Regions from separate parts of the Homo sapiens genome. Here region 1 is linked to region 2. Evidence: fine-mapped expression QTL. A gene starts in region 2. The other region holds a variant in brackets. All regions are shown on one strand. Distances are between the middles of the regions.

Region 1 (5,379 bases), 61 kb before region 2:
TTATACCCAAATCACGGAGAAGCACCGCCAGAACTGATAGCAGAAGGGGTCAGAAAGAAATTATTAAGCTTGGGTCCTTCTTTTTCTTTTCTTTTTTTTTTTTTTTTTGACACGGAGTCTCGCTCTGTCACCCAGGCTGGAGTGCAGTGGTGCTATCTCCGCTCACTGCAGCTTCCGCCTCCAGGGTTCAAGCAATTCTCCTGCCTCAGCCTCCTGAGTAGCTGGGATTACAGGCGCGCGCCGCCACGCCCGGCTAATTTGTGTATTTTTAGTAGAGACGGGGTTTCACCATGTTGGCCAGGCTGGTCTCAAACTCCTGACCTCGTGATCCACCCGCCTCAGCCTCCCAAAGTGCTGGGAATACAGGCGTGAGCCACCGCGCCCGGCCAAGCTTGGGTCCTTCTATCAGACCATATAAGTTACTGTTTTAAAATAAATCCCACCATCTCTGCCTGGCACTGTTAGGTTGCCGTGTATATGAGGCAGAGGGGTGAGTTGTAAAATTTAACCTTGTGAGAGTGACTTCAATCTTGGTGATTGTTTGAGGCTTTCTTTTCCTTCTCTCTCTCTCTTCTTTCCAGTTCTTCACTCTAGAAAGTAGTTCGGGCTTCTTTTGATCTCTGAGAGACCCTGCTTAATCTCACGATAGCCCTGCAGGTGGGTTTGATTGTTTCTGCTGCACAGATGAGAACACAGGTCCGGGTGCAGCAGGGGCTCCCCGGGCCAGTCCTCCGGCTCAGCCAGCTCTCTCCTCTAAGGACTTGCAAAGAGTGGACGCTCACCCTGATTCCACTATGGAGCACTCAGGAAGGGAGTCCTGGTATTTCATTGACAAGGCTGGCAGACTGGACCAAGTTGGAACTAAGACTTGCCCTTGTCACCCACACGGGACCCCCAAGACTTTTTCCCCCATCTCCTGTACACACTCAAAATTACAGCCTCCACGAACTGCTATGAAAACACTTTTTAAATAGATGCCTGGCGCGCCCTCGTGTGTCTCCATGGTGTAATAACACCGTAAGGTTTTCAAAACAGCTTAAAAAATAACAATAATGATGGCTGCTGATACAGCTGATACATATTGAGCACTGATGTGCCAAGCAATGTATAAAGAAATGTAAATGCACAGTTTCGGCTTTGATATAAAAATTTTTCTTCTGAAGAAACTATATATGATCATGGTAAAAAAAAAATCACACAGGGCACAAAGGTTTACAGCAAAGTTATCTTCTCCCACTCTGTCCCGCCTGATGTGAATGGTGCACACTAATGTTGGGCAGTGCATAACCTGTCCAACCTTTCACCGTAACACTGATATGGGTCCATGTGCAAATGTATCTGTGAGATACATTCTTAGACTTGGAATTGCATGTGTATGCAGCCCTCTCCAGGGGGCACTTAGTACCACTTTGAATCATTGCACTGGCACTACTTGCATTGGCAGATGTTTTCCCCATTATTTCCTTCACTCGATAAACTACTATTAAGCACCTACTGGATACAGGGCACTTGGTTTCAAGGTTCTCTTTGCTGGTAGCATGAAGGCAGACATGAGTTCAGACCTTACATCCCATTCTCTCAGCAATCCAGTACGAAGAGTTTTTCTTAAGAAATTTAAAAATTAGTCCCAGAATCCAGTATCACTGGCTTTGGTTGGCTTAGCTTTGGCCACGCCCTCATTCCTGAACCAATCATTGTTGCTGGGATGGTGGGGGTGGGGTGCTCTTATTGGTTAACTAGGAGATGGGTGGGGTCCCTGAGGAGCAGATCCGTAAGAGCTATCAGCTTAGAGGCGAATGGAAGTGGATGGCGTCCAAGCAACAGATGCCCGCTTCTGTGACTCCACCCCTTACGGAAAGTCTATGGGACTCTCTGAAATGTATGAGTGATACTGTTAGAAAGCGGCAAGAAAATGAAAAGAAAACGTGGATGTTTTCCATATTTGAGTTGATGCAGGCTGGAGACAACAGCTGCCAGAGCTGCAAGGCAGAACACCCTGAGAAGTGGAACCGGAGGATCCAGGCGCCTGTTGAAGGGATAAATGAGAGCCGTGGCGTGTGGATGGGACTCTTTCTGTCTTCCGTTTGGCTGAAGCTCCAAACGCCAGGAGTAACCCAGTGGGTAGCAAGCACCCTTCCCTCCACCTCTGCAGGAA[T/C]TGCAAAAAGCAATGGTAAAAAAATTGGTTTGTGATCCTTACCCCAGTGCTCAAGGAGGTTGGAGAAGCTGAAAGAGAGGACTGGTTTTGATATGGTTTGGATTTGTGTCCCCACCCAAATCTCATGTCAAATGGTAATCCCCAGTGTTGGAGGAGGGACTGGTGGGAGGTGATTGGATCATGGGGGCGAATTTCCCCTTGCTGTTCTCGTGATAGTGAGTGAGTTCTCATCAGATCTGATTGCTTAGAAGTGTGTAGTGCTGGCCGGGTGCGGTGGCTCACGCCTGTAATCCCAGCACTTTGGGAGGCCAAGGCGGGCAGATCATGAGATCAGGAGATAGAGACCATCCTGGCCAACATGGTGAAACCCCGTCTCTACTAAAAATATAAAAATTAGCTGGGCGTGGTGGCGTGTGCCTGTAGTCTCAGCTGCTTGGGAGGCTGAGGCAGGAGAATAGCTTGAACCTGGGAGGCGGAGGTTGCAGTGAGCCGAGATCGTGCCACTGCACTCCAGCCTGGCGACAGAGCAAGACTCCATCTCAAAAAAAAAAAAAAAAAAAAAAAAAAGAAGTGTGTAGTGCCTCCCACCTCTCTCTCTTCCTCCTGCCCCAGCCATGTGAACACATTCCTTCTTTCCCTTTGCCTTGCTCCGTGAGTGTAAGTTTCCTGAGGCCTCCTCAGCCATGCTTCCTGTATAGCCTGCAGAACTGTGGGCCAGTTAAACCTCTTTTCTTTGTAAATTACCCAGTCTCAGGTATTTTTTTTAGCAGTGCGAGAACGAAGGGACTAATACAGGTTTGGAGACACGTCTTTGGAGAAACTATTGATACTTGGCGTCCTGTGGCATTTCCTTGCCATTAGCACCTCCAACGTTATGCTGGAGAAAAAGCCGTTCCAACTCTTCACCGAACGCCGAGTCAGAGAGATGTGGGGAAACCACCGAAAGAGCTTGCCCTGTGTCTTCTGGACAGACTAGTGCCAAACCCATGCCTGGAAATGGGTAGAAGTTAGGGACCATGGCCGCTCAGCCTCTGCAGGAAAATGGATTACTGCATCAGGAATGATGACTTTAGAGAAGGCCAAAGGTGTAAGTTTCTTCCAGCAGGTTCTGAACCTCCAGAGGCAGCTGGCCTGGGGTTATTTGGGATTCCCAGTGCAGGACTGCCTGAAAATGTGAGGCGCCCAAATGGGGCTGCTGGACCACAGGATGCCCAGGACCTGCAGGCACACTCAAGAGTGGCCTGCCAGAGGAGACACATTGCCTGCCTCCCAGGAAGCAAATTTGGAGGTTGCCAGTGGGAGAATTGCCAAGAACCGCCATCCCTCCCCTGGGACACACAAGCTAAGGAAAGAAGGAATTGGCCCTCTAAGTCCAGAAAGCACAAGATCACATCATCACAACACCAGCCAAGTAAAACATCCCTGCTCCTCACCTCTTCAGAGCCCAAGGGGGCTGGGGAGGAGAAGAAATGAGAGTGGAGGAGGAAAGAGGTTTAATATGAATGAAGTTTGGAGTTTTGACATGACTCGACATTCTAATGACTTCATTTAGACTGTTGCTACACTCAGAAGTGACTTGGAGACATTTTATTTTTATAATCATCACCATATTGTTATTGGTCATGATCTAAGGGTGAGGAGAAGGGCTAAAGGATCGGCCCAATGGATCATTCGGGGAAAGTAAAGAACTATCCCACCAGTTGTGTTTGAATGGGCAGTGAGAGGGAAAATCAAGTTGCTACTTGCACCCCTCTAACTCCCAACTTCCACTCTTTCAACATACCAGACATGAAAGCTGAGTAAATGACCTCAAAGGTACAGCGATGACAGGGTGTGGTGGTGGTAGTTCTTGGTTTCCTACATTGCATCTTCAAATCGGGTTTTAGAATGGATGACACTGGAAGGCTAGAAATCTCAGGTACTGACATGTGGGCTGGTTTATAATTGTCTTCAAAAATTCACCCACAATAGGATCAGACAAGTTAGTATGGCCATAGGTGCTACAATGGGAGAAAGTTTTAAATGCTGTTCAGATCGGAAGACATGGGTCAAAAAGATCAAGAAGAGTTGACATGAGGCAAACATTTTATATCTCCATTCAAGAGCTACCTGATGAGGTTTCACCCATCAGGGATACAATGAGAATTTACTGGGCGCCTAGCACTGTGCAGACACAATTCAAGCAAAAGGCAACCAACTCTGGCATCCAAGTGCAGGCCAGCAGCCAAGTTCTTCCTCCTTATGAGCTGACATCTGATTGACAGATGGCCCCAGAGAAAGCTTCTTGGATCATATCTCAGTAACCACTGGCCCAGCCTGTCAAATCCAGAGATTTAAGATGGCATAGCACCTTAAATCTGGAAGAACTTAGCAACTTTATAATGTCAAATCCAGGGGGAAAATACGCACACAGAGAAACCAGAAAAGCATAGAATGGTGGGGAGAAAGAAAGAAAGAAAATGAAAACACTGTTTCCATCGGCAGAATTAGCCTTTGCCAGGAAAACTGCAATGTTGTCTTGGTAGGCACATAATTCATTTTTCTACATGTTCAGAAGTAAAGAAAAAGCCAGACCCAAAAAGCCAGACCCTGGGGGAAATCGTGGATACTGTTTGTAACTTTGGCAAAGACAATATATTTGTGAACTCAGCCTCATGTGAAATGCTTGATAATCTCAAAAAGTAAATGCCACAGCGTGTCGTATACTGTGTGGTCTCAATGATGTGAGAATGTCTATATATCCCAATACCTGTCCTCGTTTCTAACTAGCTTGATTTATTGTCATAGACAAAAGAGTAGGTGAATGAATATATACCAAAATGTTGTTAGTAACTGGTAGGACATGGGCAGTTTTTATTTTTAATCTTTATAGTTTTCAGTATTTTCTAAAGTACTAAAAATTATTTTTATTTTTTTCTTTCACTGTCATAGCCCTTTCATTATAGAAGCAAGACATGAATGAGAATTCACAGAAACACATAGACAGTATAGAATGTTCTAAGTGGGGAGCTAGTCTTTCCTGTTCTTCCAACTGCCTTGAGATTGCCACTGTCAGAAATCTTGCTTTCTATTTTTCAGGCTGTTTTCTTTTCCTTTTTTTCTTTCTTTTTCTTTTTTTTCTTTTTCTTTTTTTTTTTTTGAGACAGAGTCTCACTCTATCACCTAGGCTGGAGTGCAATGGCGCGATCTTGGCTCACTTCAACCTCCACCTCCCGAGTTCAAGG
Region 2 (5,379 bases):
AACAAAACTGGAGAAGTAACATTGTTAAAATGTCCTACAGATTCCATGTAATTCTTATCAATATTCCAATGACATTTTTGTAGAAATAAAAAATTCTAAAATTTATATAGAATCATAATAGACTCCATATAGTCAAAGCAATCTTGAGCAAAAAGAACAAAGCTGGAGGCATCATATTGCCTGACTTCAAAATATACTACAAAGTTATTGTAATCAAAACAGCATGTCACTGGCATAAAAACAGGCACATAGACCAATGGAACAGAATAGAGAGCCCAGAAATAAATCCACGCACTATAGTCAATTGAGTTTCATCAAACATGCCAAGAACGCGTAATGGAGAAAGGACAGTCTTTTCTATAAATGGTGTTGGGACAACTGGATATTCATGTGAAAGAATTTAGACTCTTATCTTACATCATATGCAAAAATCAACTCAAAATGGATTAGACTTAAATGTAAGAGCCAAAACTATAAAACTCTTATAAGAAAACAGGGACAAAATGTCATGGCATTGGCCTGAGCAACGATTTTTTGTGTAGGACTCTCAAAACACAGGCAGCAAAAGTGAAAATAGACAAATGGAATTGCATCAAACTAAAACGTTTCTGCACAGTCAAGAAAAAAGAAAAAAAAAGAGTGAAAAGACAAACTACAGAATGGGAGAAAATTTTTGCAAACCATACATCTGATGAGGGGTTAATATCCAAATATATAAGGAATACAATCCAATAGTAAGAAAGGACAAAACCTGAATTAAAAGTAGGCAAAAGATCCAAAGAAATCTTTCTCAAAAGAAGACATAAAAATGGACAACGGGTATATTAAAAAAAAATGCTCAACATCACTAATCATCAGCGAAATGCAAATTAAACCCACAATGAGATATCACCTCTGACCTGTTAGAATCGCTATTTTAAAACATAAGAAAGATAATAAGTGTTGGCAAGGATGTGGAGAAAAGGGAACCGTTGCACCCTGTTGATAGGAATGTAAATTAGTACAGACATTATGGACAACAGTATGGAGGTTCTTCAAAAAAAATAAAAATAGAACTACCTTATGATCCAGCAACCCTACTACTGGGTACATATCCAAAGGAAACAAAATCAGTATATTGAAGAGATGTCTGCAGTCCCATGTTAATTGCAGCATCATTCACAATTCTCAATCTGAGTGTCCATCACTAAATGAATGGATAAAAATATGGTACATTTATATACACAATGGGATACTATTCAGCCTTTAAAAAGAATGGAATGCTGTCATTTACAGCAACATGGATGGAACAGGAGGATATTGTGTTAAATGAAATAAGCTAGGCACAGAAAGACAAATATCCCATGATCTCACTTATATGAGGAAGGTAAGAAAAGTTGAACTCATGCAAGCAGAGTAGAATGGTGGTTACCAGGCGGTGGGGTAGGGGGAGGGAGATAGGGAGGATTTTGAGAAGTTGGTCAAAGGATACAAAATTTCAGTTAGATAGGAGGAAACATTCATGAAATCTATTGCACGACATGGTGACTATAGATAATAACAATGGGTTGTATTCTTGAAAAATGCTAAGATAATAGATTTTAAGTGTCCTCACCCCCGAAATGATCAGTATGTTAGGTAACGTTAACTAGCTGGATTTAGCCATTCCACAATGTATACATATTTCAAAACATGTTACTTACGATAAACACGTACAATTTTTACTTTTCCTTATGTACGTCTTCATCTGGCTGTTCATTTTTATCTTTTATACTATCTTTTATAATAAACTGGCAATAGTAAGTAAAGTGTTTTCCTGAGAAACAACAAACTGGAAACAACTGTTTAGCAACAAGAAACTGCCTGACCAGGTAGAAGGACGTGGTAGCTCTGTATGTATTGATATGGAATATAGTCTGAGATAAATTGTTTAGGAAAATGAAAAGCAAGTTGCCAAAGAACCCACAGTATGATGTCATTTATGTTGGAAAAAACGCCACAACGATGTGTGAGTGTGCACACTGAATGAAAGAAAATTCTGGAAAGAAACTAACGGCCAGCAGTGTCACAAGGGGGATAGGTAGTTTATTTATTTATGTGTGCGTGTGCAAAGTTCCGTATTGTAAGAATTTGCTACAGCCTGTGTTATTATAAGCTTTGTAATGAAACAGGTAGAAACTGAAAAAGTTTAATTATTCCCAATTCAGTTTAGGTTCTGTCTCCGGAAGACTTTCCCGGATTCCCCAGCCCCCACTCCCCACCCCATCTTACCACCCCCTCTGCCAGCTCTGAGTCTCAATTTTCTTTTCTGTAAGGATTTTCATCATTTAACCTTATTTCTTCTGAATGCACTAAATGGTAGTTATCCTAGCACTTAAGAGGATGTCGGAAACATGGTTCATTGTCTGACCCTTCCGACTCTGACTTGTATGAGCACATTTTGGGGGGAATGTAGGAGTCAGGGGAAGAGGAGTTCCAAAAAGAGACTACTAGAGGGTACAGCTGTCCCGGAAGAGACTTCTGAAGAGAGCAAAGCGCGTCCGACGTTTTTCTCGAGAGGCGCCGAAGTTTTCCGGAAAGAGACGACCAACTGAGAGGTGGGCCCCCAAAGCCGGCTGCGAGAGTCACCGAAGATTTCCGGAGAGCCAAGGAGTCGGGAAGAGCCACTTACTGAGCGTTGCCGAACGTGTACGGAGATAGCCGAAGAGGCGGAAGGCGGGGCCACAAGAGCCCTTCCTGCAGGGAACCTCAGGCTTCAGAGAGCCGAAAAGTTGGGAGGCGTAACCACTTACAGGCCGGAAGTGTCCGGGGTGGACGCATTCGGGTAGCCGAAGAAGTCCCAGGATTGCCGAAGAAGTCCCAGGATTTCCGAAGCGAGCCGAAGCATCGCGACAGTTTTCAGAGACAGCTGATCGGTTGGAGCTGTTGCGCCGAGCAGTCATGGCGGCGGCCAGAGCTACTACGCCGGCCGATGGCGAGGAGCCCGCCCCGGAGGCTGAGGCTCTGGCCGCAGCCCGGGAGCGGAGCAGCCGCTTCTTGAGCGGCCTGGAGCTGGTGAAGCAGGGTGCCGAGGCGCGCGTGTTCCGTGGCCGCTTCCAGGGCCGCGCGGCGGTGATCAAGCACCGCTTCCCCAAGGGCTACCGGCACCCGGCGCTGGAGGCGCGGCTTGGCAGACGGCGGACGGTGCAGGAGGCCCGGGCGCTCCTCCGCTGTCGCCGCGCTGGTAAGGTGGGCCGGGATCCCGGCGTGGGCGGCCCCGAGGCTCTGGGGCCTGGGCGGGTGAGGGACTCCCCTGCGCTCCGAAGCTGGATTTCCCTCAGTTTCTCCTTCTGTGCCTTCTGCGGTGTCCGGCCTTTCGGAAATGTTATTCTTTCATCCCTTTTTTCATTCGTTAAGTCTTAAGAAACCACGTGGCCATGCAGCGTCAAGCTTTTGTCCTGAGGCCGTTCTGCCTGGTTCAAATCTGGGATCTGTCATTATTGCTCAATGTTGAACATGTTTAACTTCCCTGAGCCTTGGTTTCCCCATTTGACTCGTTTCAATTTTCGATCATTATCTTTCCATTTATTAGTTTTAAGAAACATGTAATGACAAGTACTTGCCCCACTGGAGCCAGGCTCCCTGGGTTGAAATACTAACTCTGCTGCTTGTGTAGCCTTTCAACAAGTTATTTAGCCTCTCAGCCTCGGTTTTCTCACCTGTAAAATGGGAGACATAGTAGCAGTATCCATGTCATAGGGATGTTGTGACCATTAGAGGAGGTATGTGTGTCACGTATTATGTTCAAATGTGTGCCTGGCACATAGTGCCCAATAAATGTTGGATTTCATTAAATTGCCTATTTTTTCATTAAACATCATTGTGCGCCAGCACCATAAACTTTGTCCTCAGATGAGAAAGTGACACTCAGAGAGAAGTAACTTGCCCAAGGTTACACGGTTACTAAGTGGCCGGTCCAGGCCCTCAGCTCCTTATGCCTCTGACTCAGAAGCCCTGGCTTTTTACTTTTACGCTTCTTGCCTTTCTTTTATCAGTATTTTTTAGGTACCAGTGGGTACCAGGACATTGTTAAGTGCTGGGAGATCTGGGTGGGGGATATTCAGTAGCCAACAAGCGGACACATTGCTGCCCTTTCAGAGACTTAAGATTTCATGAAGTTATTTGTGTATTCATATTTCTGTTTTCAGCCTCATGATCTGTTTCGTTAAGCAGAGATTGTATTATAGCTGGCTTGTTTATTGCTGTATCCCCATTGATAACATCTCTCAGTTTCTAGAAAAGTATACTGAGCCTGGTTGACTTTCAGTAAAGATTCATTGAGTTTATTGGAGCTATTGTTCCTTGTATAGTAGCAGAAACTGAGGCTTAGAGAAGTTAATGTAATTTTAAGATTAGATTAGACAACTAATAAGAAAAGCAGCTGGGATTTGAACCCTGTCCTCTCTGACTACGAAGATGAACCTCGAAGCTAGCACACTGCTTGGCCTCCTGTTTGTGTCCTCATCAGTAGAAACTGCTCTGACTGGGCTGTGCCTTGCTCTTTGTTTTTGTTTTTTGAGACAGTGTCTCACTTTGTCACCCAGGCTGGAGTGGTGCAGTGGCACAATCTCAGCTCACTGCAACTTACGCTCCCTGAGTTCAAGCTATTCTCCTGCCTCAGCCTCCCGAGTAGCTGGGACTACAGGCGTGAGCCACCACACCTGGCTAATTTTTGTATTTTTAGTAGAGATGGGGGTCTCGAACTTCTGACCTCAAGTGATCCGCCTGCCTCCGCCTCCCAAAGTGCTGGGATTACAGGCATGAGCCACCACACCCGGCCTTTGTTTTGTTTGTTTTTTAGAGAGTGAGTGTGACAAATGAAGTCCAGTGAGAAAGGGTGGTTTGGAAGGGAGGAGGAAGCTATGGCCTCCTCAGTTTAGCTGTGGGGTGTTCCCAGGCATAGTCCTGCAGTGGGCATGAGCAGGGGAATATTCCAGATGAGTTCAGTTGTACCATTTCCTGTAGCATTCCTCAATAGTCCTGAAATAAGTAGATATAGATGGAAAAACTGGCTTAATCTTTGAAAATTAAGTTTACCCGTTAAAAAAAATCCAACCCAATAACCACTTATGTCTTGATTTCAGGAATATCTGCCCCAGTTGTCTTTTTTGTGGACTATGCTTCCAACTGCTTATATATGGAAGAAATTGAAGGCTCAGTGACTGTTCGAGATTATATTCAGTCCACTATGGAGACTGAAAAAACTCCCCAGGGTCTCTCCAACTTAGCCAAGACAATTGGGCAGGTTTTGGCTCGAATGCACGATGAAGACCTCATTCATGGTGATCTCACCACCTCCAACATGCTCCTGAAACCCCCCCTGGAACAGCTGAACATTGTGCTCATAGACTTTGGGCTGAG

The links. PIP is the estimated chance that this variant, and not a neighbour inherited with it, causes the effect.
Region 1: its variant is the best candidate, but not a certain one, in a credible set for the expression of TP53RK in whole blood (INTERVAL, PIP 0.59).

What each region holds. Positions count from the first base shown.
Region 1 is chr20:46,748,434-46,753,812 of GRCh38, reverse strand. No RefSeq gene overlaps it. Among named protein-coding and RNA genes, the nearest start is that of SLC2A10, 41 kb to the right of the region's middle. The variant T/C (reference allele first, on the strand shown) is at 2,156.
Region 2 is chr20:46,686,955-46,692,333 of GRCh38, reverse strand. It overlaps TP53RK (TP53 regulating kinase), which reads left to right and starts at 2,890. Exons shown (of 2, transcript NM_033550.4): 1 at 2,890-3,202; 2 at 5,103-5,379. The coding sequence starts at 2,920. TP53RK-DT (TP53RK divergent transcript) reads right to left here and starts at 3,035. Exons shown (of 1, transcript NR_186399.1): 1 at 2,045-3,035. RefSeq lists an enhancer at 2,442-3,031 and a silencer at 3,262-3,311.